Regions from separate parts of the Homo sapiens genome. Here region 2 is linked to region 1. The links come from fine-mapping of genetic effects on plasma protein levels. A gene starts in region 1. The other region holds a variant in brackets. All regions are shown on one strand. Distances are from middle to middle. Region 1 holds the start of CXCL16 (C-X-C motif chemokine ligand 16). Region 2 has its middle 9.2 kb from the start of TM4SF5.

Region 1 (8,560 bases):
TTCTTGGCTCAGGTATTAGAGTCAGGTGCCACAGGTATATAATGAACCGGCAGATCTGGAAAGGATAAAGAAATTGAGAGATGAGCTCTGAGATCAAGGACAGTGTTTGGGGGATGATAGCTTGAACTAGGGAATCAGATGAAGACATCAACACTATGACCTGGCCCACAGTAGGTGCTCAGTGAAAATTTGTGAATTGAATGACTGGCCCTCACCTCCCTCCACAGCTTCATCTCCCACTAGCTTGCTCTAGCCATCTTCTCCATGATGTTGCTCCAAGCACTAGTCCTTGTGCCTGTGGTGGCTTCCTTCCCTCTCCACTGTCTACAGTCCCCGACTGACTGTCCTCAGAGGGCCCAGAGTCAACCTTGTGCAGACAACCTTGATACTTGTGTGCCAAGGCCAGGTTTCCAGCCACCTGAGAGCCACTGGGTCAGGATGCCTGTCAGGAAGGCTCTGGGTCCCTGGGGGGAGGGTTCAAAGGTCCAGTTTACCTGGAGAGGACTGCGGTGACTGCCCCCTCCTCCTCTTGCACAGCACATAGGAAAGGGCTGCGGTGAGGATGAAGATGATGGCCAGGAGGCACAGGACTGGCACTGTGGCTGATGTCCTGGCTGTGGGACCAGCATTTTTTTCCGGCTGCTTCTGGTTCTCCCCAGCCTCAGGCCCAGCTGCCAGACTGTGGCCCGCAGTGTGAATGGTGGTTTCATTGGGACGAGTGAGCTCTTTGTCCGAGGACAGTGATCCTACTGGGAGGGTGGGGCGCTGAGTGGACTGCAAGGTGGACAGGAGCATCTGGGCAGGGGTGTGGATATCTGAAGATGCCCCCTCTGAGGCCTGAGAAATTGGGGGGCTGGTAGGAAGTAAATGCTTCTGGTGGGCCACAATCCCCGAGTAAGCATGTCCACATTCTGGAAAGGAAAGAAATGAGGAATCAGGACTATCAGGAGACAAGGTGAAAAAGCAGATAGAGGTGTAGGGGAGAAAAAGTAATATCTTTTCCTCACCCATCGCAAGGGTCAAGGCTGATACCCCTATAAATAAAAAACATTAACAAGAGAAAAGCCTAACATTTATTTAATCACAGTTTTACATGACATAGGAACCTTCAGAAACAAAGACCCGAGAAAAGTGCATTTTTATGCTTAGGCTTGCTGTGAAGAATGGACAGCTGTATAGACGTATGATTGGATTGGCCGGGCGCGGTGGTTCACGCCTGTAATCCCAGCACTTTGGGAGGCTGAGGTGGGTGGATCACCTGAGGTCGGGAGTTCGAGACCAGTCTGACCAACATGGAGAAACCCAGTCTCTACTAAAAATACAAAATTAGCCAGGCATGGTGTCATGTGCCTGTAATCCCAGCTACATGGGAGGCTGAGGCAGAATCGCCTGAACCCAGGAGGTGGAGGTTGCAGTGAGCCAAGATTGCACAACTGCATTCCAGCCTGGGCAACAAGAGCGAAACTCCATCTCAAAAAAAAAAAAGAAGTATGATTGGACAAAAAGGGTATGATCTAATGGCAATAAATGGGGGGTGGGGGACCAGCAAGGCCTGTCCAGATTCTTCTTGGCCTCCAAGTATAGGGCAGGACCCATCTGAAATGAGAGCCTATGACCTACTTCCACGTGAAGTTAGAGAATTCCTTTATGGCCAGCTCTCACAGAAAAACAGAGCAGAGTGAGCTACTTACTTCTGCTGTTTTCGTAATTACCAAGGTGCCATGTTTTGGAGTGTCATGTTCTGAGCTCCAACAGAGGGAAGAGTGAGTCAGGGAGGTTATCACGCTGAAGGCCAGAAGAGGAAGGCAGATGACAGACGGAAAAGGTAGGGGACAAGGAAGTGAGCGAACCACGAGACAAGTGGGTGTCATGAACTGGGAAATCAGAAGACCAGGGTTGGATTCCAAGCTCTGCTGTAAAGTAGCTGTGTAACCTCAAGTAGCTGTGTAACCTCACCCCTTGTCCCTAACCTCTCCGGAAGTGATATCTTCCAGCTGTAAAATGAGGATAATTGTAGTACCAAGGGCCAGGGTTCCTGGGAGGATGAAAGGAAATCATAGAGGTCTAGGCAGACTTAAAGGCAGTATGGATGACACAGATCCTACAAAACTTTAGCTAGGACATGGAAGAACCTTTTGTATTTTAATGGTTGTATATTTATTTTAAGAGAAAAATATAACCAATGCATCAAACTTGTGACTTCACAGATATTATTGCTTAGGATAATTTACTATTTAAGTTTTCTTTCTTTTTTTTTGTTGCCCAGGCTGGAGTGCAATGGCCTGATCTCGGCTCACTGCAACCTCCGCCTCCAGGTTCAAGTGATTCTCCTGCCTCAACCTCCTGAGTAGCTGGAATTACAGGCACATGCCACCATGCCTGGCTAATTTTGTATTTTTAGTAGAGATGGGGTTTTACCATGTTGGTCAGGCTGGTCTCAAACTCCTGACCTCAGGTGATCCACCGGCCTCAACCTCCCAAAGAGCTAGGATTACAGGAGTGAGCCACCGTCCTGGCCTCTACTTAAGTTTTCAAAACTAGTTTGTGCACACTTAAAAGTAATTCATTTCATTGTATGTAAATTTGAACTCAAAAGAAAAAAAAGCATTAAAATATTGAACTCTACTTAATATACATGCTGAAATGTCTTGGGATGAAGTGCAATGATGTCCACAATCTGCCTTGAAATGCATCAAGAGGCCGGGCACTGCGGTTCACACCTGTAATCCCAGCACTTTGGGAGGCTGAGGCAGGTGGATCACCTGAGGTCAGGAGTTTGAGACCAGCCTGACCAACACGGTGAAACCCCATCTCTACTAAAAAAATACAAAAATTAGCTGGGCATGGTGGCGGGCACCTGCAATCCCAGCTACTCGGAAGGCTGTGGCAGGAGAATTGCTTGAACCTGGGAGGCGGAGGCTGCAGTGAGCTGAGGGCACCATTGCACTCCAGCCTGGGCGACAGAGCAAGACTCCATTAAAAAAAAAAAAAAAAAAAAAAAAGAAATGCATCAAGAAATAAGGTGATGGATGATGGATAGAAGAATGAATAGATGGATACTTAATAAAGCAAATATCGTGTAATTGCTGTAAAATTGATAGTGTAAAATATATGTTTATGTAAATATGTAAAATATACATATATAAATAAAATTGTAGAATCTAGGTGGAGGCACTGGATATTCAGTGTGCCATTCTTTCAACTTTTGTATATGTGTAAATTTTCATAATAAAATATTGGAAAAGAAAAATAGGCCAGGTGTGGTGGCTCACGCCTGTAATCCTAGCACTTTTGGAGGCCGAGGCGGGTGGATCACAAGGCCAGGAGTTCGAGACCAGCCTGGCCAACATGGTGAAACCCTGTCTCTACTAAAAATACAAAAATTAGCCAGGCTTGGTGGTGCGCGCCTGTAATCCCAGCTACTCAGGAGGCTGAGGCAGGAGAATCTCTTGAACCTGGGAGGCAGAGGTTGCAGTGAGCCAAGATCGTGCCACTGCACTCCAGCCTGGGTGACAGAGTGAGACTCCATCTCAAAAAAATAAAATAAAATAGTACTTTGATTTCAAGAAAAATATTAATAAGTAGACAATAGCACACGTGGTAGAATGAATTGGCAAAACTCATGAAGGTGATGGTGAATGATCACCCCGTTTGGCAAACAGGGACTCGAGTCTAAGTACTTTGGACAGGATCAGAAGAAGGTTCTAGGAATGTGCGGCCCCAGGGGAAAAGGCTCAGGTAAAGAAAACTGTCAGGTGGAAGCTGCTAAGCCCTGGAGGCAGAGCCTGAAGAGCAGTGGAAAAGTCTCACCTTTGAGATCAAGACAGCTCATCAATTCCTGAACCCATGGGTCCTTGTTGCCCCCACACACGCTCCAGGAAAGGAGCTGGAACCTGCGGAGGAGAGACCTGGGCTTAGCTGCGGCGCCTTCTTTCCTTCCCCGGCTCCTTCCTCATTCCAGAGGCGTGAAGTTGCCACCAAGAAAGAGCCCTTTCTCCTGGGACTGGGAAACTCCCCAGTAGGTGAGACGGAGTCATGAAGTTTCGGGGAATGAGAGCAAACGGAACCCGGAGATGGGGCTCGGTGAGCCGGGAAGGAGTTCAGGCTGGACCAGAGAGGGTCCTGGAGGCACCTGCAAGGAGGGGCCGCCCAGGCGCTGCCCTCGCAGAGGCAGGTAAAATTACCTCGTGTAGTATAGACACCGATGGTAAGCTCTCAGGTGTTTCCGGAGACGATTCATGAACTGAACCGATGGCGGGGAGTCGGAAGAAATTCTTTTACCACAATAACAACTTCCAGTGACGCTGCCCTCGTTGCCATTGCCTGCGCGGGACGGAGGTGGTCGGCACCCATTCCCAGGCCCAGGGTCCCCACTCCGCTGTTCCCTGGCATCCAATCCACAGCCCCATGACAGCCTCTCGGTGGACCCAGGGTCAGAGCGCCAGGCTCAACCCACACATCATCACGCCCCCGACAACATCCATAATCCCGCCCGGAGCCAGGCGTCCCCGGGCCTCTGTCCCCAACCCCAGGCGGCTGGCTGGCTTTCCTCTTGTCCCCGCTGCCTTCATCCACTCAACTCCGTGGGCCTCGTGTCCCCTCCCCAACTCACCCCCTTCCCGTGACAGGGGAATCTGGGTCCCCTGCCCCGCCCCCGGCTAACCTGGCTGAGTCAGGTACACCAGCAGGAGCAGAAGCAGGAGCAGGAGCACGCGGGACCCGGGCCGCAAGTCCCGTCCCATCTCGGGGCTCCGCGGACTCTGCGGGGATGGAGCCACCTCGCTCTGACTCCCAGACATGCTCCGGCGCGTGACGTCCAGCTGGTGTCTCAATGGCTTTCGCCGGGGACCGGAGGAGACGGCGGCCGGAGAGGAGGCGCGAGCCAGCTGCACCCCCCGGCCCTGCTGTGCCCCGACCGTGCGCTCAGTACTCGGCCCGCGCCATGCCAGCCTCTGGACGCAGGGAAAGCCGAGGAGGTGGAGCTCCCGCGCCCTGCGCCCCCGCACTGGGCCCGGCTCCGTCGAGGGAAGGCCAGGAATCTTGGAAGAAACCGAAAGAAAACTCCGGCGGCGGGCGAGGAGGGGCGGGAGGACGACGGCCCGAGGAGCCGATTCGGTTCGGTTCAGGAGGCCGCCCGCCTGGCCCGTCCGCCGACCTGTGAGGCGGCTGCACTGCCGGACCGGCCCTCCTCCTCCGAGGCACTTTCACTTCCCCGATCCGGGCGCCGCGGGACCCAGCCGCGCTGCATGAGCCTCCCGGGCGGCCCGGTGGAGAGAGTCGCCGCCAGCCCCGGCCGCGCGCACCTGCGGGGCAGCCACCCGCGGACGCACCGAGCCCGGGGGGCGTGGCCGCCCGCTGAGCCGGCGAGGGCTCGGGCAGCCCTGACGTCACAACCGCACCCGCGCACCCTCCACCGCGAGGTATTTACCTTCGAAAAGTGGTGGCGGCTGCAGGTACCGGAGGAGTGGGGCGGCCGGGAGGGGCTAGGTCTACCGGGGCTGCCCGCCACGCAGATCCGAGCCCAGGGAACCCCCTCGCTCCCACTCCCATACCCCACAGACGCATCCAAAATGCTTCCCTCCCCACCAAACCGTTCCCGATAGGATTAGCCCTCTCTCCTCTCTAGCCTTAATTTAAACTCTGCTTTTGAGGGTGTGAACTCTCCAATTTTAAGCCCCAAATACCATCTCATCCCTGAGTAGTCTTCTCCAACCCTGGTCACCCACTTTCAAGTCCAGCCCCCATTTTCCTCCCTAAACTCCCATCCTCAGCCCTGAAAAATCCTCTTCTCCGCTCCTAGCATATCCACGGATCCAACCCTAAGTGACTCTCAAACCTACCCTCTCCCTCAATTTGTGACCCAGCCCCAAACTCCATCATTGCTCTCCTGTCCCTCACCATATATCCCTTCTTTTGCTCAGTCTGGGCCGGGGCCCTGTGCCGCTGAAGACATGGAGTTTGTGTCTGGATACCGGGATGAGTTCCTTGATTTCACTGCCCTTCTCTTCGGCTGGTTCCGAAAGTTTGTGGCAGAGCGTGGAGCTGTAGGGACTAGCCTTGAGGGCCGCTGCCGGCAGCTGGAGGCCCAGATCAGAAGGCTACCCCAGGACCCTGCCCTTTGGGTGCTCCATGTCCTGCCCAACCATAGTGTGGGCATCAGCCTGGGGCAAGGGGCAGAACCAGGTCCTGGACCAGGCCTGGGGACTGCCTGGCTCCTGGGAGACAACCCTCCACTCCACCTGCGAGACCTGAGCCCCTACATCAGCTTTGTCAGCCTAGAGGATGGGGAGGAAGGGGAGGAGGAAGAGGAGGAAGATGAAGAAGAAGAGAAGAGAGAGGACGGGGGTGCAGGCAGCACAGAGAAGGTGGAACCAGAGGAGGACCGGGAGCTAGCCCCTACCAGCAGGGAGTCCCCCCAGGAAACAAACCCTCCAGGAGAGTCAGAGGAGGCTGCCCGGGAGGCAGGAGGTGGCAAGGATGGCTGCCGAGAGGACAGGGTGGAGAACGAAACAAGACCCCAGAAGAGGAAGGGACAGAGGAGTGGTAAGAACCCAGGGCTGGCCCTGCCCTACCCCTTGCCCAGCCATCCTCCCTTCGGAAGCCCTCCCCTGCCACTAGTTCTGAGTGCTGGCCTTCAGGCCAATCTGGCCTGAAAAGGTGTTTTTATTGACCCACAGTGGGGTTTTTTTTTTTAATTTAATGTTTAAACATTGCAAGAAAAAAAGTATCCAGAAGTCTGGATTTACACATTCCCAAGAAAAATCTCAAGCTCTGACAGTGGGCCTACATTTCTGCATGGCAGCGCATTCTGGTCCTCTGTAGCAGCTGTCCCCTTTAGAAGGAGCGTGCCCTCTCTACCCAGAGCCCTTTACTCAGTGAGGTTACTTGCCTAGCCCCGTAGGTATTTGAGTTTGGTACTCCTGACCCTGACCACATTTGTCTCTCGCTGCCCCCTACCACCTCAACTTTTCCCTCTTTCCCCAGAGGCTGCCCCCCTGCACGTTTCCTGTCTCTTACTTGTGACGGATGAGCATGGCACCATCTTGGGCATTGATCTGCTAGTGGATGGAGCCCAGGGAACCGCAAGCTGGGGCTCAGGGACCAAGGACCTGGCTCCTTGGGCCTATGCTCTCCTCTGTCACAGCATGGCCTGTCCCATGGGCTCTGGGGATCCCCGAAAGCCCCGACAGCTTACTGTGGGAGATGCCCGGCTGCATCGGTATAGAAATCTGGTATCTGAGGCTGGGGAGGACTCGGGCCCTGGATTCCCAAGCACCTCCTCCAGCCTGATGCCATCTCCCCCCCAACTGCATTTAGAGAGCTGGAGAGCTTGGTCCCAAGGCTAGGTGTGAAGTTAGCCAAAACCCCAATGCGGACATGGGGTCCCCGGCCAGGCTTCACCTTTGCTTCCCTTCGTGCTCGAACCTGCCATGTGTGTCACAGGCACAGCTTTGAAGCGAAGCTGACACCTTGGTGAGCAGCCCCAAAGCTGGGGGAGAGGAAGACCCCAATAGGCAAATAGAAGGAAGGCAGGGTGGTGGGGGGCGCCTAGCAGACAGAAGGAGAGGCAGGGACATGAGAAGATGCAGAGGAAACAATACAGACTGTTACAGGCGGTTAGAGGGTGTAAGACAAACAGACCGAGTGACATATGGGCAGCTGCTGGGCAGTTGAACAGCAGACAGGACCTACAGAGGTTAACACTAGGTGCCCACCACCCGCTGTGTCCCCAGCCCCCAGTGTAGTGCTGTCTTGTATTGTGGAGAGGCTTGTCTCCGGGCTGACTGGCAGCGGTGCCCAGATGATGTGAGTCACCGATTTTGGTGCCCAAGGCTTGCAGCCTTCATGGAGCGGGCAGGAGAACTGGCAACCCTGCCTTTTACCTACACCGCAGGTACCATAAGGAGGTCAGAATGGTTGGGGGAAACTGGGACCAGGTCTTTGAGACTGGGAATTAGATGTCTGGGAACAGGGTCCTGCAGTTGAAGGCTGAGTGTCTGGGGCTAGAGCCTAGATCCCTGGAACAAGGGCAGGGGCTGGGTGTTTGGGGCTGGAGACAGGGTCTCTGAAGCCGAGGCCTGAGTGTCTGGGTCCCTGAGAGCGTGCAGGGATTGGGGGACAGGGATTCAAACACTTACTTGCTTCCCAGCTCCACCACTAACTGCAGTGTGACCTTAAACAAACCACTTTACTTCTTGAAGCTTCCGTGTCCTCATGAGGGATACGGAGAAGGCCCATGGAATTGTTACAAGGATTATCTTGGCTTGGTGCCTGGTACGCTGGAGGCACTCAGAAATGGTAGTTCCCGGCCTGACTGGAACCAGACTTAGAACCAGGGTCCTCGCGGGAGGCTAGGGAGAGTTCAAGGCTGGGGTTCTAGGCCGGGCAATGGTTCACACCCGTAATCCCAGCACTTTGGGAGGCCAACTTGAGCCCAGGAATTTGAGATCAGCCTGGGCAACATAGACTCTGTCTCTACAAAAAATAGAAAAAATTAGTCAGGCATGGTGCACTCGCTTGTGGTCACAATTCTCGGGAGACTGAGGTGGGAGAATCGTTT
Region 2 (15,696 bases), 24 kb after region 1:
GGTTTTCACCATGCTGGTCAGGCTGGTCTCAAACTCCTGACCTCAAATGATCCAACTGCCTCAACCTGCCAAAGTGCTGGGATTACAGGCGTGAGCAACCACACCAGTGTGATATTTGTCTTCCTGTGCCAAAGCGTCTTTAAAGCACATGCCAACACACTGTAGCATCCGTTACCCCTCCTTGTTGCAATCATCTTCCAACATCTACCAGCTTCATCAAAGGCTTAAGCATTTGCCTTAAATTTACGTCTCCACCATTAATCACGTCTCCATTTGTGTGGACTCAGACATCCACCTAGGCAATCCAACCATCCCCGCCACCCCGCTTCAGTTCCTTGTCCTCTGCACTTCGGTACAATTTTTTCCTCCACCCCACCTCAGCCACGCACTCCCACAGCAAACCGTAGACTCTGTGATGATCAGTAACTGCCCCATTTCAACCTCCTGAGGACAGGCATCCCGCCACTATCCACCTTTTCATCCCCTTCTCTGGTACCCTCACACCAACAATCCTTCACCCCTCAGGCTCTGTAGTCCATGTACCATTCCACATTTCCACTGTCTGTCACCTTCCTCCTGTCGTCACATCTCCCCTTACTCAGTTTTTTTGTTTGTTTTGTTTCTTTGAGACAAGGTCGAGCAGCTGAGACTATAGGCACACGCCACTGCGCCTGGCTAATTTTTGTATTTTTAGTAGAGACGAGGTTTCACCATGTTGTCCAGGCTGGTCTTAAACTCCTGAGCTAAGGTGATCCACCCGCCTTGGCCTCCCAAAGTGCTGGGATTCCAGGCGTGAGCCACCACGCCTGGCTGGTTTACTTGTCTATTGCCTACCTCTCCCACCTGAATCCCCAGTATGTGGAACAATGCCCGGTATCAAGTGAGTACTCCATATACATCTTTCTGGTGTGAAAGAAAGAAAAGGAGAGAGGGAAGAGAGAAAGAAGTAACAAACAAGTAAGCAAAAAGCCTCAGAAAAATGGTTTTGATGGCCGGATGAGGTGGCTCACACCTGTAATCCTAGCACTTTGGGAGGCAGAGGCAGGCGGATCCCCTGAGGTCAGGAGTTCGAGACCAGCCTGACCAACATGGAGAAACCCTGTCTCCACTAAAAATATAAAATTAGGTAGGCATGGTGGTGCATGCCTGTAATCCCAGCTACTCAGGAGACTGAGGCAGGAGAATCGCTTGAATCCCTGAGGCAGAGGCTGCAGTGAGCCGAGATCGCACCATTGCACTCTAGCTTGGGCAACAAGAGAGAAACTCCGTCTCAAAAAAAAAAAAAAAAAAAGGTTTTGGTTAAAGCCATCTTAAATCATTAGCTCTTCCTGTCTGCATGTTTCAACAACCACGTTGATCGAGTAGCATCGCAGTTACAAGCACAGAACTAAGCAGAGGCCTCCTAAGTGTAAGCCCCAGCTTGACTAACTTCTGCTGTGTAGTCTTAGGCAAGTCACTTTATTTAAAAAAAAAAAAAAAAAAAGGTCGGGTGTGGTGGCCTTTTTTTGTCTCTTAAAAAAAAAAAAATACAGAGGTCTCCCTATGTTGCCCAGGCTGGTCTTGAACTCCTTAGCTCAAGGGATCCTCCCCGTCTGTGCTTCCCAAAGTGCTGGGATTACAGGTGCGAGCCACCACACCTGGCCAGGCAACTTACTTTCACTCGGAGCTACATCCACTCATTCAGCAAATACTTACTGAGTGCCTACTCAGCTGCAGGGTGCTACCCTAGGTTAGTTGTGAGGATTATATACAACAAAGTATGAGAAGCCCCTAACACCAAGCTTAGTTCATTATCAAATAATAACATGGCTGGGCGCAGTGGCTCATGCCTGTAAACCCAGCATGTTGGGAGGCTGTGGCAGGAGGATTGCTTGAGGCCAGGAGTTCAAGACCAGTCTGGGCAACATAGCGAGATGCTGTCTCTTAAAAAACAACAACAGCAACACACTCCTAAAAATCTGTTATTATTTGTGCCCCATAGTGTGACCTTGGCTCACTGCAGCCTCAACCTCCTAGGCTCAAGCAATACTCCTGCCTCAGCCTTCCGAGTAGCTGGGACTACAGGTGTGTGTCACCATGCCAGGCTAATTTAAGTAAAAATTTTTTGGAGAGACAGGGATCTCACTGCGTTGCCCAAGCTGGTCTTGAACTCCTGGCCTCAAGCAACCCTTCTGCCTTGGCCTCCCAAAATTCTGGGATTACAGGCATCAGCTACCAAGCCTCATCTCATTGTCTGTTTATAATCATCTGTACTTGCAATTTGAATATTCTCACTGATTAGAACTATTTTGGGATTTTTTAAGAGGTCGCTGTTACTTAAACATTTAGAAATTTCTGGTTTATTGCATTATGGTCTGGGTATCAGTCCAGTACAATTTCAAGTTTGGGGAATTTCATATCTCCTTCACGGCCTAATATTTGACCAAGATTTGTAAATGTTTTATTGGCATTGAAAAAGGTAGGTTCTCCATTTATGAGATACAAAGTCAAGTAAATAGCACTTGAATACATGCTCCAGGAGGATGGAGGCTCAGGATGTTCACCGATGATGTATTTATGGCTGATATCTTCCTGGTATCCAGCAAAGGGCCTGGCACATATCATTTAGTAAATATTTGTTGAATGAGAGGCTAACTAATCAATCAACTTTATCATTGAGATTCTCTGTTTCTTTATACGTTTGTATATTTTTCTTACTTTGTCGAAGAGAATTATATTACAGTTTCCCACTACTATTATATTTCTGACAGTCTCCCTCGGCATTTCTAACTATTTGGGGTTTTTTTTCTTTTCTTTTTTTTTTTTTTTTTTTTTGAGACTGAGTGCCCTTTCTCATAAAACACCAACCACTTCCTCTATGGAAATAAATTTATTCCCAGTACCTTCTTGGGTCTTGCAAATATTACAGCCAAATGCATTTTTTTTTTTCTGGCATGTCAGTGTCTGCTCACTGTAGAGGAGGGTGAACAAGTTCTGGTCTCCTGATCTCCAGGAGTCTGAGCTAGGAGAAGGAAGAAGAGAGAAATGTCAAAGGGCTATATTTGCAGGGTTTCTATGGAAAAATCTGATTTCAAACAATCTTCATCATCTGAGATGGTTTCCCTTCTAATGACTCCATCTGGTCCTCACGTCGATCTTAGTTCTCAGGAGCTGATAACTCTGGCCTTGCCTTGCTCAGAGAGCATTCAACCCCCACTCCTCCCCAGGTCACATTGCCAAACACCTTCAGTGGCAATTCATGGGTCCTCAGAAAAGCATCACTCTCATTCCTGGTCTCCCTCCCTCCACTGCTCTCCTCTACAATCCCACCTCAGGTGATCCTCCCGCCTCGGCCTCCCAAAGTGCTGGCATTATAGGCATGAGCCACCGTGCCTAGCCCGGAATCTGCTTTTAACACCATCTTCAGGAAATCTGTATGAAGTTACGGTTTGAGAAGTACTGAACTAAGCAGACAGCCAAGTAAGAGCCCCTCCTGTCCAGGTCTAAGGGTAGTTCCGATTCCCTGACCAGCAAATCTTGAGTAGCTGCCTCCCAGTAGCTGCCTCCCAGTCACTCTCTACCACACCACCCTATTTCCTTCATGTAATTTAGCATAACCTCTAATTTCTAGTTTACTGCCTGTCTCCCCAAACTATAATATAAACTACGAAGAGGTACCTCATCTGTCAAGTTTAGTGCTGTATCCACTGGGTCCACAACTAGGCACATTACACAGAGGGTACTCGATCCTGCATTTCACTGACTTAAATACTTTCAAGTGTTATACATCATGCTTTTGTTTGTTTGTTTGTTTGTTTATTTTGAGACAGAGTCTGGCTCTGTCGCCCAGGCTGGAGTGCAGTGGCATCATCTTGGCTCACTACAGCCTCTGTCTCCTAGGTTCAAGCGATCCTCCTGCCTCAGTCTCCTGAGTGGCTGGGACTATAGGCGTGCACCACCATGCCCGGCTAATTTTTGTATTTTTAGGAGAGATGACATTTCACCATGTTGGTCCGGCTGGTCTCAAACTCCTGACCTCAAGTGATCCATCTGCCTCGGCCTCCCAAAGTGCTGGGATTGCAGGTGTGAGCCACAGCACCCGGCCAAACCATGATACAATGCTTTCTTAACACTTCAATTTTTATTTTATGCTAATTGAAGTCTCTTTCAGACCATTAAAAAATCTAATTCTGGTGCGTACACAAAAACAAAAATAATATGGTTAAAATATTCCAAAAAAATCTTTAAAGTCTGACTCTTCTGAATCACTTTCTATCAGTGCCTGTGTTGCTGTCCCCTCTACTGTCGAGGGCATTGGAGAAGCGGAATTTCTTTAAAAAGTGCTCCACTACTGTCTCCGAGATTTTCTTCTAAGCTAGTGACACATTCTTGTTTTACCAAATAGTGTCAACAAAATTGATGTCTTCACTAACAAATTTTCGCTCCACTACTTTATTTCTATGCTTAATACATCATTTCCTTTTGATTTCTGTTTTAAAGCATGTTATCTTTTTGAAGATTTTTTTTCTTAATAGCATTTATTTATTTATTTATTTATTTATTTATTTAGAGACACGCTTGCTGTCACCGAGGCTGGAGTGCAGTGGTGTTATCTCGGCTCACTGCAACCTCCGCCTCCTGGGTTCAAGCAATTCTCCTGCCTCAACCTCCGGAGTAACTGGGATTACAGGTGTACGTCACCATGCCTGGCTAATTTTTGTATTTGTAGTAGAGATGAGGTTTCGCCATGTTGTGCAGCCTGGTCTCAAACTCCTGACCTCAAGTGATCTGCCCGCCCCGGCCTCCCAAAGTGCTGGGATTACAGGCATGAGCCACCGCACCCGGCTGAATAGCCTTTATTTTTTAAAAGCAGTTTTAGGTTCACAGCAAAATTGAGCAGAAAGTACAGAGTTTTCTTTTCTTCTTCTTCTTTTTTTTTTTTTTTTTTTTTTTTTGTAGTTTTAGTAGAGATGGGGTTTCACCATGTTGCCCAGGCTGGCCTTGAACTCCTGACCTGAAGTGATCCGCCCGCCTCGGCCTCTCAAAGTGCTGGGATTACAGGCATGAGCCACTGTGCCTAGCCGAAAGTATAGTGTTTTCTTATACTCCTACCCCCACACATGCACAGCCTCCCCCACTATCAACATCCGGCACCAGAGTGATAGATTTGTTCCAATCAGTGAACTACATTGACACGTCATTATCAGCCAAAGTCCATCGCATAGTGTACATTAGGATTCGCTCTTGGTGTTGCACGTTCCATGGGTTTAGACAAATATATAATGACGCACCAGTATATATATAGTATCATACAAAGAAGTTTCACTGCCCTAAAATCCTCTGTGCTCTGTTTATTCCTCCTTCCCCTCCCTACCAACCCCTGGCTGCCACTGACCTTTTCACTGTCTTCAGAGTTCTGTTTTTTTCCAGAAAGTCATATACTTGTAGCCTTTTACTTTTTTTTTTTTTTCTCCCTTAAGATGGAGTTTCTTTCGCTCTTGTTGCCCAGGCTGGAGTGCAATGGCAAGATCTTGGCTCACCACAACCTCCGCCTCCCAGGTTCAAGTGATTCTCCTGCCCCAGCCTCCCAAGTATCTGGGATTACAGGCATGCACCACCATGCCCAGCTAATTTTGTATTTTTAGTAGAGTCTGGGTTTCTCCATGTTGAGGCTGGTCTCGAACTCCTGACCTCAGGTGATCCACCACCCTCAGCCTCCCAAAGTGCTGGGATTACAGGCGTGAGCCACCACGCCCGGCGGTTTTGGTTTATTATTATTATTATTATTTATTTATTTTTTTTAATAGAGACAGGGTTTCACCATGTTGTCCAGGCTAGTGTTGAACTCTTGGGCTCAAGGGATCTACCCACCTCAGCCTCCTAAAGTGCTGGGATTACAGGTGTGAGCCACCACACCTGGCCTTTTGTTTGTTTTTGTTAGAGACAGGGTCTTGCTCTGTCACCCAGGTTGGAGTGCAGTGGCACAATCACAGCTCACTGTAACTTGCAACTCCTGCCCTCAAGCAATCCTCCCGCTTCACCCTCCCAAAGCACTAGGATTACAGGCATGAGCCACCATGCCCAGCCCTACTGGAGCTTTGTAGTAAGTCTTGATGCTGGGTCGTGTCAATCTTCCAACTTTGCTCTCTTTCAATATTGTGTTGGCTATTCTGGGTCTTTCGCCCCTCCAGACAAACTTTAGAATCAGTTTGTAAATATCCATGAAATGGTTTTCTGGCATTTTGATTGGGATTGTGTTGAAGATACAGATCAATTTGGAAAGAACTGACATCTTGACAATGTTGAGTGTTCCTATATATGAACATGGACTCTCTCCATTTATTTATATCTTCTTCGATGTCTTTCATCAGAGTTTTGTAGTTTTCTTCATGTAGATCTTATACGTATTTTGTTAGATTTATATGTAAGTATTTAATTTGGGACAGTGCTAATGTAATTGGTACTGTGTGTTATTTGAAGACATTATAAACAGCAATTCAACTCAAGAAGTGTAGTACCAGTAGGGTTCACAACTCAGCTGAGGTGATAACAATACGAACAGCTACGACTGGGTTCTCACAAGTGTAGGCAAAACCTACCATGTTGTATGACACCATGGATTGTACAATATATCCTAATTTTGGGAAAAATAAAATGTGCTAAAACACGTGACTTAGAATTGATTGGCCAGGTGCAGTGGCTCACACCTGTAATCCCAGCACTTTGGGAGGCCGAGGCGGGCAGATCACTGGAGGCCAGAAGTTCGAGACCAGCCTGGCCAACATGGTGAAACCCCATCTCTACTAAAAATACAAAAAATTAGCCAGGCGTGGTGACACATGGCTGTAGTCCCAACTACTCAGGAGGCTGAGGTTTTAGTGAGCCAAGATCACACCACTGCTGTACTATAGCCTGCGTGACAGAGTAAGATTCTGTATCAAAAAAAAAATTTGAAATATGCTAAATATTTAACAAATAGGCCAAGCAGGTGGCTCACACCTGTAATCACAACACTTTGGGAGACCGAGGTGGGTGTATCACCTGAGGTCAGGAGTTCGAGACCAGCCTGACCAACACGATGAAACCCCATCTCTACTAAAAATACAAAAAATTAGCTGGGCTTGGTGATGCGCGCCTGTAATCCCAGCTACTTGGGAGGCTGAGGCAGGAGAATCACTTGAATTCGGGAGGTGGAGGTTGCAGTGAGCCCAGATTGCACCACTGCACTCCAGCCTGGGAGTGAGACTCTGTCTCAAAAAAAAAAAAAGAAAAGAAAAGAAATAAACGTCACTGACTCAATTTCACAGTATTCTCATAACCAATTTAAAGTCTAGAAACCACTGGAAAATTTTCCATTTTTCCCAGTTTATATCCTAGGAGAAAGCAAATCTAATTGGCCTGGACACTCAGCTTATGGTACAGTTTACAAATTTCTGGTAACTTCCACTGCTTTAAACGAAGACTGAAATTACCAATGTCTCAAATAGAGTAGAAGTTTATTTCTTGCTCACAAAATAGTAACGAGGCTGCCGGGCCCGGTGCTTCACGCCTGTAATCCCAGCACTTTTTGGGAGGCCGAGGGGAGTGGGTCATTTGAGGTCAGGAGTTCGAGACCAGCCTGGCCAACATGGTGAAACCCCGTCTCTACTAAAAATACACAAATTAGCCAGGTGTGGTGGTGCCCACCTGCAATCCCAGCTAGTTGGGAGGCTGAGGCAGGAGAATTGCTTGAACCCAGGAGGCAGAGATTGCAGTGAGCCAAGGTCGCACCACTGCACTCCAGCCTGGGCAACAGAGCGAGACTCCGTCTCACAAAATAAATAAATAAATAAATAGTAAGGAGGCAGGTGGCCCACAGCGGCACTCCTGCTCTTCTAGGTTGTTCGGGAGCCCAGAATCCTGATATTGTTGTTCCACCATCTCTAAGGGTTGTCCTCACCAAAGAGTCCAAACGGTTCAACTCCTGGCCTACATTCCAGCCAGCAGGATGAGGAAAGGGAAGCTCATTCCTTAAAGTCTACCACCAAAGTTGATTGTTGCAGCCATTAAAAAAGAACAAATTCATGTCCTTTGCAGCAATATGGATACAGCTGGAGGCCATTATTCTAAGCCAATTAACACACGAACTGAAAACCAAATATTGCATGTTCTCACTTACAAGTGGGAGCTAAGCACTGGGTGCACATGGACATAAGGATGTAAACAATTGACACTGGGGCCTCCAGAGGGGAAGGGAGAGAGTGGGGAAAGGGTTGAAAAAACTACTGGGTTCTGGCCGGGTGCGGTGGCTCATGCCTGTAATCCCAGCACTTTGGGAGGCTGAGGCGGGTGGATCACCTGAGGTCAGGAGTTTGAGACCAGCCTAGTCAACATGGTGAAACGCCATCTCTACTAAAAATACCAAAATTAGTCAGATGTGGTGGCATGCGCCTGTAATCTCAGCTACTTGGGAGGCTGAGGCAGGAGAATCGCTTGAACCCAGGAGGCCGAGGTTGCAGTGAGCCGAGATCGTGCCACTGCACTCCAGCCTGGGTGACAAAGTGAGACGCTGTCTCAAAAAAACAAAAAACCAAAAAAACTACTGGGTCCTATGCTCAGTACCTGGGTGACAGGATTAATCATGTTCCTAAACCTCAACATCACACAATATACCCTTATGACAAACCTGCACATGTACCCCCAAATCTAAAATAAAAGCTGAAATTATAAATAAATTGAATACTTTGTTGTGGGGATCTCATAAAACTTACAGAAAACATCTGCATTATGCCTTAAAACCAACATTGCAGTAAGGTAAGATCAACTAGCAGCATTCTCACAAAAAGGAAACAAAGTTGATCAAATCATTTACACTCCTTCCCATAAGCCATAACTATGTGACAACGCATGGCCACAGCTACAAAAGAAGTTAGAAAAAATAGGGTTTTTTTGTTGTTGTTGTTGTTTTGACACGGGGTCTCGCTCTGTCGCCCAGGCTAGAGTGCATGCAGTGGCATGATCTCAGCTCATTGCAACCTCCGCCTCCCAGGTTCAAGCGATTCTCCTGCCTCAGCCTCCGGAGTAGCTGGGATTACAGGCATGTGCCACTACGCCCGGCTAATTTTGTATTTTTATAGAGATGGGGTTTCTCCATATTGGTCAGGCTGGCCTCAAACTCCCAACCTCAGGTGATCCACCTGCCTTGGCCTCCCAAAGTGCTGGGATTACAGACGTGAGACACCACGCCTGGCTAATTTTTGTATTTTTAGTAGAGATGAGGTTTCACCATGTTGGCCAGGCTGGTCTCAAACTCCTGACCTCAGGTGATCCACCCGCCTCAGCCTCCCGAAGTGCTGGGATTACAGGCGTGAGCCACCGGGCTTGGCCGAAAATATAGTCTCTAGCTTAGCAGCCATGTGCCTTTAGCAGCAGACTACAAAGTCTGCTACTATAATAAAAGCAGAAGACTGGGACTAACTCACTATCTCTGTCACATACTAGGTCAAGCATGTGCTACTCAGCTATGGGCAGTGAGTACGGAGCCACAGAGTTTAGACAGATTCCCTGGAGAGGATATTCGCTGGATGCCTCCCCATCATTCATTCTGTCTTTCCTCCTTCCTAATACTGCCCTTAATTTCCCAGCCTGGTGGCTTAGACAGAATTGACAACACCCCCTGTGCTGGAATGCCTCCATGTGAAGAAGGACATGTTTGCTTCCCCTTCCGCCATGATTGTAAGTTTCCTAAGGCCTCCCCAGCCATGCTAAACTGTGAGTCAATTAAACCTCTTTCCTCTATAAAGTACCAGTCTCGGGTATGTCTTTATTAGCAGCGTGAGAACAGACTCATACAGCATGTTCTACCCTCTGGCCACAGTGATCCGTGTAAGGGACAGACATAGAACCCAGTCTGCACCAAGGAGAAATTTTCTGGGGTAAATGGGAAAGAAACTTCCTCTCTACTCAGGGAAAGCTATGCGAGGAGATTCTCTTCCTCCTGGTGGTAGGGTGTAAAGACATAAGGTCTGAACTGCTGCAGCTAATACTACTGTCAGGAGGAAGATCCCACTTAAGGAGGAAGTCAAAGCCAAAAAAAGGAACAGCAGAGAGAATGGCAGAGAAACAAGAACACTGATGACATCCTGAACTTCTGGACCAAACTGCACCTGCAGTTAGTCCTACTTCAGTCCTACTGGATGTTTTGATTGCTTGAACCAATAAATTCCCTTTTTGTTGCAATAGAGTTGGGTTTTCTGTTACCTGGTATAGTTCCTTACAATGGACCCAGAGTATGGCAAGCAATAATGACATATTTAATAGTATTAATATCATTTTTAGAATTTACATTATACAGCTGCCCTTTAAAAGAATTTTTTTTTTTTTTTTTTTTTTTGAGACAGAGTTTTGCTCTTGCCCAGGCTGGAGTGCAATGGCGCGATCTTGGCTCACTGCAATCTCCACCTCCCAGGTTCAAGCGATTCTCCTGCCTCAGCCTTCCCAAGTAGCTGGGATTACAGGCATGCGCTACCAAGTCCAGCTAATTTTGTATTTTTAGTAGAGATGGGGTTTCTCCATGTGGGTCCGGCTGGTCTCAAACTCCCGACCTCAGGTGAGCCGCCTACCTCGGCCTCCCAAAGTGCTGGGATTACAGGCGTGAGCCACCACGCCCGGCCACTTCAAAAGAAATTTTTACGGGGCTAGGTGCAGTGGCTCACGCCTGTAATCCCAACACTTTGGGAAGCCTATGTGTGCAGATTTCTTGAGCCCAGGAGTTCAAGACCACTTGGGCAACAAAATGAAACCCCATTTCTACAAAAAATACAAAATGATGGCTGGGCTCGGTGGCTCACACTTGTAATCCCAGCACTTTCGGAGGCCGAAGTGGGCGGATCACCTGAGGTCGGGAGTTTGAGACCAGCCTGACCAACATGGAGAAACCCTGTCTCTACTAAAAATACAAAATTAGCCGGGCGTGGTGGCACATGCCTGTAATCCTAGCTACTAGGGAGGCTGAGGCAGGAGAATCGCTTGAACCTGGGAGGCAGAAGTTGCAGTAAGCTGAGATTGCGCCATTGCACTCCAGCCTGGGCAACAAGAGTGAAACTCTGTCTCAAAAAAAATATATATATATATATTTACATATATACACACAAAAAGATTAGACAAGCATGGTGGGTGGTGAACATCTGTAGTCCCAGTTACTTGGCAGGCTGAGGCAGGACGATCACTTGAGCCCAGGAGATAGAGTTTGCAGTGAGCCAAGATCATGCCACTGCACACCAGTCTGGACAACAGAGTGAGACACTGTCTTTAAAAAAAAATGAGACTGGGCACAATGGCTCTGGCCGGGTTGTGGTGGCTCATACCTGTAATCCCAGCACTTTGGGAGGCCAAGACAGGTGGATCACTTGAGGTCAGGAGTTCAAGACCACCCTCCAACATGGTGAAACTTAGTCTCTACTAAAAATATAAAAATTAGCCAGGCCTGGTGGCCCATGCTTGTAATCCCAGCTACTTGGGGGGCTAAGGCAGGAGAATCGCTTGAACTCAGAAGGCTGAGGTTGCAGAGTCAAGATGACGCCACTGCACTCCAGCCTGCATGACAGAGCAAGACTCTGACTCAAAACAAAAGAGAAGAAAAATATTTTTTTCCAAAATGTGCATCCAGTTTTGTAACCAGATATATGAAATTTATTTAGACTTACGTCAAGACTTCCCCATTTTGGGGTTTTTATTTTACTTCATCTCTTGGTGAGTCAACACAATTTCTCTAAAAAAAAGGAGCCAAAGTGTTATTTTGAAATCCAAACATTCTCAGAAATGCAATTGTGTTGCCCTTAACATACAAAATGCAACTTAGACATGTATATGATAGTTCTACCTTTTTTGGTGGACACAGCTGCCTTACTCCTTTGTCCTCTGACATTCAGTATTTCAGAGAAGACTCTGGCCACACCAACTATTGTTTCTTTCTAAGTAGCCTTTTTAAATTCTGCCTAGATGTATCCTTTAATTCAGATATTTTGTCAGGATGAATCTATGGTCAGCTGACTTTTAATATTTTACCTGCCGTGCAGTATAACTTTCAACCCACTGACCTGAGTGGATCTATCTGCGCTCAGTGACGTCTTCTCCTAGTGCAGATGTTTTAACTGTGGTGTCACTTCCACCAGTTCTATTCTTGTTCTTAGGAGAAGCCAGTTTCCTGAATTTTTTTTTTTTTTTTTTTGAGCCAGAGTCTCACTCTGTCACCCAGGCTGAAGCGCAATGGCGTGATCTTGGCTCACTGCAATCTCCACCTCCCGGGTTCAAGCGATTCTCCTGCCTAAACCTCCTGAGTAGCGGGGATTACAGGCACCCGCCACCATGCCCAGCTAATTTTTGTATTTTTAGTAGAGACGGGGTTTCCCCATGTTGGTCAGGCTGGTCTCGAATTCCTGACCTCAGGTGATCTGCCCGCCTCGGCCTCCCAAAGTGCTGGGATTACAAGCGTGACCCACTGAGCCTGGACCTTTTTTTTTTTTTTTTTTTTGAGATGGAGTCTTGCTCTGTTGCCCATACTGGGGTGCAATGGTGCGATCTCGGCTCACTGCAACCCCCACCTCCCGGGTTCAAGCGATTCTCCTGCCTCAGCCTCCTGAGTAGCTGGGATTACAGGTGCCTGCCATCACACTTGTCTAATTTTTGTATTTTTTGTGAAGATGGGGTTTCGCCATGTTGGCCAGGCTGGTCTCAAACTCCTGACCTCAGGTGATTCACCGAGCTTGGCCTCCCAAAGTGCTGGGATTACAGGCGTGAGCCACCGCGCCCGGCCAGCCTTTTCTTTCTTAAGTTATTCTGTTCCTAGTTCCAGGAGAATTCTAGTGATGTCATCAAAAATCTTCCTGGAAATCTCTTCCAAATCCTATAGTAAATGTTCCTCCAGAGGATTCTGTTTCTTTCAGTCTTCAGGTTGATTTGCCCTTCCCTGGTTTTGAGAAAATTTTTCAGAATCCCTATAATGTTTTGTTAACATTATTAACATTATTTCATTCATCCAGAATTGTATAAAAATAATGTAATGAATGCCTGTGGACCACCCCACCCACACAACTATTTTTTTTCTCTTTATTCATCCTCAAAACAGACACCATTTGGCTGGCCGCAGTGGCTCACACCTGTAATCCCAGCATTTTGGGAGACCGAGGTGGGTGGATCACCTGAGATCAGGAGTTCGAGAGCAGCCTGGCCAACATGGAGAAACCCTGTCTTCATCTCCACAAAAAATACAAAAATGAGCCAAGCGTGGTGGCGGGCACCTGTAATCCCAACTACTTGAGTCTCCTGAACCCGGGAGGCGGAGGTGGCGGTGAGCCGAGATCACGCCACTGCACTGCAGCCTGGGCAATAAGAGTGAAACTCTGTTTAAAAAAAAATAAAAAAGAGGCACCATCTCTCAGAATCAGCTTGAGCAACTTGTAGACAAATAGGTGGCCAGCTCTTGGCCCTGCTCTCTGTCCATCAGATCAATGGCTGAATCCCCTCTTCAGGTCCACGGTTGGAAGGGCCACTATTCGGGATATGACAGTTGCTCTGGTAGTTCAACATTAGTGCTGGTGACAACCTCTCATCGGCCACCTCCTGAGGAACCAGAGTTTTCCAGTGCCTGTGCTTCTCCCTCTGGCGCTGTTTCAGAGTAACTATTCTCCATACACTTCTCTTGCTGTGACTTCTGCTTATTTCTGGTGTCAGTTGCCTCTGGCTTTTGATTGCTTCTTTCTTGCATACAACTCTCAGTTTGAAGCCACCCCACTCTCTGATGACTGTCTCAGCTTGTCTCACAGACACATTTCCCAATCATGAAGATCCAGTCGGTGGATTGGTCATTATCCAGTCAGTGTACCTCTGTTGGATGGAGTTCTCACCTCGAGAGACCTCACAGGTCGCTGGCTACATGTCTGCCTTTGGGTCAGCTACTTGTTCCTCAATCAACCAGCCCTGGCCTAGATAAGGGGGTCTGTGTTAGGAACTTGTTACTGGGCAACAAACCATCCCCCTCGACGAAGTCTTAGTGTCAAATAAATATAAGCATTTATTTCACTGATACACACATAGGAGTTGGCTGGGGGTCAGGTGATCTAGGGTGGGATCCAATGTGACCCTTTTCCTTGTATCTTTTTTTTTTTTTTCTAGATGGAGTCTTCCTCTGTCACCCAGGCTGGAGTCCAGTGGTGCAATCTCGGCTCACTGCAACCTCCATCTCCCGGGTTCAAGCAATTCTCCTGCCTCAGCCTCCCGACTAGCTGGGATTACAGGTGCCTGCCACCACACCCAGCTAATTTTTTTTGTATTTTTAGTAGAGACAGGGTTTCACCACGGTAGCCAGGATGGTCTCGATCTCCTGACCTCATGATCTGCCCACCTTGTCCTCCCAAAGTGCTGGGATTACAGGCGTGAGCTACTGCGCCCGGCCAAAAGAAATTTTTTAAATTAGTTGAGTGTGGTGGTGTGGGCCTGTAATCCTGGCTACTAAGGAAGCTGAAGTGGGAAGACAGCTTGAGCTAGGAGGTCATAGCTGCAGCGAGCCATGATTATCTTACCATGGCACTCTAGTCTGAGTGACAGAGACCCTGTCTCAAAAAAAAAAAAAAAAGGATAATGTAAAATCTTTAAAGAAAAGGGACAGAGGCTGGGCGCAGTGGTTCATGCCTGTAATCCCAGCGTTTTCGGAGGCCGAGGCGGGGATCATCTGAGGTCGGGAGTTCGAGACTAGCCTGGCCAACATGGAGAAACCCCGTCTCTACTAAAAATACAAAATTAGCTGGGCGTGGTGTCGCATGCCTATAATCCCAGCTACTCGGGAGGCTGAGGCAGGAGAATTGCTTGAACTTGGGAGGTGGAGGTTGCAGTGAGCCATGATCGCACCACTGCACTCCAGCCTGGGCAACAAGAGCAAAACTCTGTCTCAAAAAACAAAAAAGAAGAGG[A/G]ACAGAAAACATCAGAAGCAATATGGAAATGTTGTTTAAAGCATTAAACATGCCAACAGAAGCAAAACCAAATGTATCAGTCATCATAATTACCTATGAGTCAGAGACAAATAGTTGGGGAGGTTCAAAGTATTTTCTTTTTCAGGCATCCTCTGATTCAAGAGGTAAATTCTCCATGTATTTTTCTCAATCCAGTTCCTCTGTCTTATAAATAGCAGAGATTCTGGCTTTTCTCCATTTTCCACATTTCTGTAGTGGTCTGAGTGGGCCGCAAGGAGGGGCTGCATCAGGGGCCACTGGCTGGTGACACTTTCCAGGTGACAGCCTCATTGCATACCCTCTGAAGCCCTGCAGCCCTTCCTGCTACCCTCATCTCTTCATGGCACTCCCACATCCTACTTGAGCTAGGGCTCATTCTGTGGGGGCCTTCACTCTCCTGTTTGCTTCTGAGACCCAGGAGGCAGAGGTTGCAGTGAGCCGAGATCACACCACTAAACTCCAGCCTGGGTGACAGAGCAAGACTCCATCTCAAAAAAAAAACAACAAAAAACCATTAGCCAGGTGTGGTGGCACACACCTATAGTCCTAGCTACTCGGGAGGCTGAGGTGGGAGGATCACTTGAGCCCAGGTGGTCAGGGCTGCAGGGAGCCATGATCCACTCCACACCAGCCTGGGCAACAAAGGGAGACCCTGGTCTCAAAAACATTTTTTTAATTAAAAAAAAAAGAAGTCGACTGGGTGGCTTGGCTCATGCTTGTAATCCCAGCACTT

What was found. PIP is the chance, under the fine-mapping model, that this variant and not a neighbour inherited with it causes the effect. The UK Biobank Pharma Proteomics Project read protein levels with antibody pairs (Olink). The fine-mapping took linkage between variants from a reference panel, not from the people measured, so its PIPs are less certain.
Region 2: its variant is fine-mapped to the plasma level of the CXCL16 protein (UK Biobank, PIP above 0.99).

The regions. Positions count from the first base shown.
Region 1 is chr17:4,734,598-4,743,157 of GRCh38, forward strand. CXCL16 (C-X-C motif chemokine ligand 16) reads right to left here and starts at 5,331. Exons shown (of 6, transcript NM_001386809.1): 1 at 4,664-5,331; 2 at 4,185-4,323; 3 at 3,811-3,893; 4 at 495-911; 5 at 1-55. The coding sequence starts at 4,742. The coding sequence ends at 9. ZMYND15 (zinc finger MYND-type containing 15) reads left to right here and starts at 5,236. Exons shown (of 14, transcript NM_001136046.3): 1 at 5,236-5,453; 2 at 5,922-6,543; 3 at 6,985-7,219; 4 at 7,318-7,473; 5 at 7,734-7,894. The coding sequence starts at 5,952. RefSeq lists enhancers at 3,844-4,749, 4,750-5,654 and a silencer at 5,203-5,422.
Region 2 is chr17:4,754,804-4,770,499 of GRCh38, forward strand. No RefSeq gene overlaps it. Among named protein-coding and RNA genes, the nearest start is that of TM4SF5, 9.2 kb to the right of the region's middle. RefSeq lists a silencer at 9,261-9,423. The variant A/G (reference allele first, on the strand shown) is at 14,925.